2 separate regions of the Homo sapiens genome follow, and region 1 is linked to region 2. Evidence: fine-mapped expression QTL. A gene starts in region 2. The other region holds a variant in brackets. All regions are shown on one strand. Distances are from middle to middle. Region 1 has its middle 13 kb from the start of PAK1. Region 2 holds the start of MYO7A (myosin VIIA).

Evidence for each region. PIP is the estimated chance that this variant, and not a neighbour inherited with it, causes the effect. A credible set is the group of variants that fine-mapping cannot tell apart.
Region 1: its variant is the best candidate, but not a certain one, in a credible set for the expression of MYO7A in whole blood (INTERVAL, PIP 0.50).

The regions. Positions count from the first base shown.
Region 1 is chr11:77,485,498-77,488,492 of GRCh38, reverse strand. It overlaps a transcript of PAK1 not described here. Among named protein-coding and RNA genes, the nearest start is that of PAK1, 13 kb to the right of the region's middle. The variant C/T (reference allele first, on the strand shown) is at 1,721.
Region 2 is chr11:77,126,632-77,129,448 of GRCh38, reverse strand. MYO7A (myosin VIIA) reads right to left here and starts at 1,203. Exons shown (of 49, transcript NM_000260.4): 1 at 960-1,203. RefSeq lists enhancers at 1-348, 1,071-1,794, 1,795-2,517.

The DNA.
Region 1 (2,995 bases), 360 kb before region 2:
AAGGTCACATATCTCTATTACTCTGGGATTGGTCACTGGTGCCTGATTTAGTTCATTTGGTGATCTCATGTTTTCATAGATGGTCTTGATGCTTGTGGATGTCCATTGGTGTCTGGGCATTGAAGAATTAAGCATTTATTGTGGTCTTCACAGTTTGGGCTTGTTTGCACCTGTACTGGAAAGGCTTTCCAGGTATTTGAAGGGACTCGGGTGTTGTGATCCAAGTTTTTTTTTAAATCACTACAGCCATATTTGCCTTAGGGGCAACCCCAAGCCCAGTAACACTATGGCTCTTACAGACTCATAGAGGTAGTGCCTTGGTGGTCTTCGATAAGATGCAGAAGCATTATCCAGATTACCAAGTAGAGACTCTTGCTCCCTTCCTTTACTTTCTCCCAAACACATAAAGTCTCTCTCTGTATGCTGAGCCACCTGGAGCTGGAAGAGGAGTGATACAAGCACCTCTGTGACTACTACCATTGGGACTGCACTGAGTCAGACCTAAAGCCAGTACATAACTGGGTCTTGCCCAAGAGCCACAGTAACTACTGCCTGGTACTTCCTATGTTCACTCAAGGCCCTAGGGCTCTACAATAGAAGCCAGCCAGGCTTGTGTCCTTCTCTTCAGGGCAGTGAGTTCCCCTGACTCCAGGTGGGTTCAGAGATGCCGTCCAGGAGCCAGGCCTAGAGTCAGAAACCTTAGGGATCTACCTGGTGCTCTATTCTACTGTGACTGAGCTGGTACCCAAGACACAAGATAAAGTTCTTCATACTCTTCCCTCCCTTTGCAGAAGAATCTCTCCCTGTGGCCACCATGCCCCAGGCCCACAGCAAGTACTGCCTGGCTACCACCAATGTTCACTCAAGACCCAAGGCTCTTCAGTCAACTTGTGGTGAATGCTGCTGGGCCTGGGACTCTCCCTTTAGGGCCCTGGTCCCAGGGAAGGTCCAGATATGCCATCCACAAGCCAAGGCCTGGAATCAGGAACCCCAAGAGCCTGCTTGGTGCTCTACCCTACTGTGGCTGAGCTGGTACCTAACTGCAAGACAAAGTCCTCTCTACTTTTTTCTCAAGCAGAAGGAGTCCCTCCCTGTGGCTACCATAGCTGGGAATGTGCTGGGTTTACACCTGAAGCCAGCACATCTCTGAATCTCTCACCCAGGGCCCATGGTGAGTACCACCTGGCTATCCCTGCTGTTTATTCAGGACCCAAGGACTGTATAGTCAGCAGATGATGACAAATTCTGCTATTAGTGGGTTCTTTTCCTCAAGGCAGCATGTTCCCTTCTGGCCCAGAGTGTGTATAGAAATGTCATCCAGGAGCTAGGGCCTCGAATGGGGTCCTCAGGATTCTACCTGTTGCCCTATCCTACTGTGGCTGAGCAAGTATCTAAGTTGCAAGACAAAGTCCTCTTTACTTTTCCCTCTCCTCTCCTCAGGTGGAAGGAAGGAGTCTCTCCTGGAGCCATGAGCTGTGCTGCCTGGTGCTGTGGGAGAGGTGGTGCAAGCATTTCCTTGGTTACCCTGGCCAGTGTCTCACTAGGTCACATAACCCCTAAGTCCACTGGCTCTGATCCTGGAACAGCACCCGGACTTGCCGAGGAATTGCAGTCCTGTGGCTTAGACTGCCTCTCAAGTTTACTTAGAACCCCAGAGCATTTTAGCCCACAATGATGAGGCTTGCTGGAACTCAGGTCTCAGCTACTGGGATAGACAATT[C/T]CCCACCCAGATAGGGCTGGTCTAAATGCTCTTCCATGCTTCCATGGGTTCTGGCTGAGTTTTGGATGGTGTTGCTTCCCACTGTGACAGGGTGGCAGTGAGTTCCAATGCAAAGTGTGCCACAATCACTGTGCTTTCCCTCCCCCAAACACATAGATTCTCTCTCCATGCCATGTGGCCACTGCCAGGGGATGGAAGAGGGGTGGTGTCTGCAATTCAAGATGGTTTTTTCTACCCTTTTATGTGCTCTTTAAGTAATATGAAGTTAAAACCAGGTACTATGATTACTCACCTGATTTTTGGTTGTTATGAAGGTGATTTTTTTGTGTGAATAGTTGTTCAATTTGGTGTTCCTGTGGGGAGGACAATTAGTAGAGGCTTTTATTCAGCCATCTTGCCCCACCTCCTCCTCTGCAATTGTCAACTTTTTTTTTTGAGATGGGATCTTGCTATGTTGCCCAGGCTGGTCTTGAACTCCTAGGCTGCTCAAGGAATCTTCCCATCTCAGCCTCCCAAAGTGCTAGGATTACAGGCATGAGCCACATGGCCGGCCTGCAATAGTCAACTTTTAATACCCCCACCGATATCTTAGACTAGGATCACTTGGCTGCAAGGAACAGGAACCTTTTTAAACCAGCTCAAGAAAAAGGGGTGTGTATCAGTCAAGCTTCAAGTGCAGAAAACAGAAATCACTCTAGCTATGGTAAATGGAAGAGGATTTAAAAGGAAATGAGATGTTTATGAAGTTGTTGCAAAGTTAGGAGGAGTGAGCTGTAAGCTAGACCTCCAGGAATAATCCCCAGAATAATACTGCAAAACTGGCTGGCCACTGGAGCTGCCATCTCTTTTACCGTAAGAGAGGTGGAGAATCAAAAAACCATCGACGGAACTACCGATGTTCGAGAACACACTATTATAGTTGCAACCGAAGAATCAGAATGCTGCTGCTGCTCTAGATAACTCCTTTTTAAAATTTTAATTTTACATTAAGAAGTTTAGGCCAGGCATGGTGGCTCACGCCTGTAATCCCAGCACTTTGGGAGACCAAGGTGGGTGGGTCACCTGAGGTCAGGAGTTCAAGATCAGCCTGACCAACATGGTGAAACCCCATCTCTACTAAAAATACAAAATTCACCAGGTGAGGTGGCAGACGCCTGTAATCTCAGCTACTCGGGAGGCTGAGGCAGGAGAATTGCTTGAACCCAGGAGGCAGAGGTTGCAGTGAGCTGAGATTGCGCCATTGCACTCCAGCCTGGGCAACAAGTGTGAAACTTT
Region 2 (2,817 bases):
TCTCCTAGAATGCGCATCAATTTTTCACAAGGGCCCATTCAGAGCCGCCGGGGCATTCGATCCTCTGCCCATGACACTGCCCGACATCCGAGCCCTGACCCCTGCCCTGGAGCTCTGGGACACAGCAAACCCACAGTCCTTCCAGAGACCTGAACTAGTCTGGATGCCTGGTGGAGATGTGGATTCAACAGGGCCAGCAGGCAGTTGCCACCGGGCACTTGTCTGAAGATGGTGCCCAGGCTGTGGAGCAGGCGCCCTATGCCAGCATGAGCCATGAGGGCTGGGGGCAGAGCCAGTGCTTTCACTAGAGACATGGGGCTCCAAGGGATGGGGGAGAGTGGTGAGGGCGTGAAATTTAAGGGCCACATTTTAAAATGACCAGACAGACATTTCATTTCTAAAAATGAGAACTAGACCACCTTCAAGTTAATTTCTTTTCCAACTGACAACAGGGGGCATAGACTGTATTTGTATTTCTATGTCTATACCTGATTTTACCTCTTCCCCACTACAACCCTGGCTGTTGGGGCTTCATACTCCCATTTCACAGATGGGATATTTGGGGCATAGAGGAAGGAAGTGACTTATCCAAAAACGGAGATAAAGAGTGTCAGAGAGAAAGCAAAGGAGACAGAGAGAACGGACTCTTCTCTCTGCCACCACAGCATGTCTATTCCCCTGGCCCCAGGATGCCACTAACCCCAGCCCCAGCTCAGAGAAGATTCGATGGACAACATGCTCCTTGGCTCTTCCCTCCTCCAGGGGACACACATCCATCTTCCCAGGCTCGGGACAGTTTCATTCAGTGGCTGTGGTGGCTGAGCCCTCAAGGGTGGCAGGAAGCCCAGTCCCAGGAGCAAGTGGCTGTGGGGCAGAGGCTCTAGAGGTAGCTCAAGTCCATGACTCCTCCACATCCAAACCCCTCCCAATGCCCAGGACAGTGGGCAGCCCATCCTTACCTGGGGCCCAGCTGCCCACTCTCAGTGACCTGCCAGCCTGGTACAGCTGCCACCTGCACGGAGGACTCAGGAAGCTGGGTCACGGGCCCAGCCAGTCTGCAAACACACGTCCCCTCTTCCTCTGTCTGGCTCCAAGTCTCGTTCTAGGCGTCCCTCTGGGTCTTTCCCTTCCTCGCCGTCTCTCTGTGTGTGTCTCTTGTCTCTCCCTCTCTCTCCTGCCCAGAGCAGCTGTCCAGCCAGCACTGCTGCCCTCCCCTCCTCACTCCAGAGCCTTCTCCCAGGAGGCGGAGCCGGAGGGGGCCTCCAAGGTCTGGGTGCGGTGACATCAGCGTGGGGGACGGGCCGTGCTGGGGCTGGGACTAATGTCCAGAGGCTGCTCAGGGCTCTGTGCAGAGCACTGGCTGCCGACAGGGAGGCGGGGTCATTGGGGTCTGTCTCTGGCTGTGCTGCTGAATGCACCGCACCTGGGCGTGGGCCCCCCAGGCTAGCTTCAGGTGCCTCCTGTTGTTTGCAGGACACCGCCTGCTGTCTCAGCACCTGAGCAGGAAACCGCACCTGATCCTGACTTAATCACTGATGTGCTGGGGTCTCAGCCCCATTTCTTCCTCCTCTACCTGGCTGTTTGGGACTCAGAGAGGGAACGGTCAGGCAGAGCATGGCAGGAGGGAGAGTGCTGAGCTAAAGCCCTGCCTTCTGCGCCTTCTCCCTCCTGCACACCCACCCTTGCCTCTGATGTGTGTTCTCTGACGCTGGTCAATGCAACATTGCCCCCACAACCTGCTCTGCGGGTTGGGGACACATGTTATTCCGTAATCATCCAGAAACTTTGCCAAACCAGCTGACTGGGAGCCACCCCACGTGTGACAGCGACACAGATAAACTGAAGTGAAATCTGTGATTTAAAGGAGTGGGGGGAACCAAGCAAAGAGGAGCACACGTCTTTGTTATTAGCGTTGTCGAGGATGGAGACCTCGCGCGGCCCTATCGGGACATGACAGTTTCTCCTTTCCGCCCTCGGCAGCCACGCAGCTGTCGGCGGCCCCATAGTGCACCTCGCCAGGGCAGCTCTGGGTGGCAGAAGGATGTCTCTTTTGGGTCCCTAGCCCCCATAACTGGGGTGTCTGCAGGGAAGCTGCCCAGAAGGTGGGGTGGGGGCCCAAAGGGGCGCTATAGCTCGCCAGCGCCGCCTGCTGGTCACAGGCCCCACTGCCCAGCTGCTTCCGTCAGGCGGGCTGAGCACCGCTGGGAAGTGACCGTGACAGGAGTCAGCTTCTGCTAGGGCCTGGGTCCCCTCAGACCCGACGACCCTGTCCCAGGAAGACCCCAGGATGCCGTCTGCCCCTTAGCCTGCTGGCCTAACAGGAGTCCAGGAGTCCCTGGAACACAGTCCCCACCTGGGATTTGCACCTGCTGCCGAAACCCAGTACTGGCCACTCCTCAAGTCCCCCCTCTCCATCCTCCCAGGCTGGGCGGGGCCAGTGGCGTCAGCCCTACACGGATGGGGAAATGAGACCCCGGGGGAGCACAGGAGAGCCCATGGCACACGACTGGCAGCAGGGACAAAATGCAGTGAGCTGTGGGAATGGGGCAGAGAGGTGGGCAGGTTATGGGGGACAGGGCGGCCTCCAAACACCAGGATGACAGCTACATTGTGTTCAGCCATGCTATGAACCAGGCACTATGCTAAGCAGATCACACGATTTGCAATACCCATTTCTCAGTCCCATGAAGAAAGCGAGGCATCTCGGTTCACTTTGCCCTCACACTGCACTCACCCCGTCTCCCAAGTCGTTTTTCATTGAGTCGTCCACTCTGCTTTCAGTCATCCCAACCCTGCTTCTCCCCACCACCACACCAG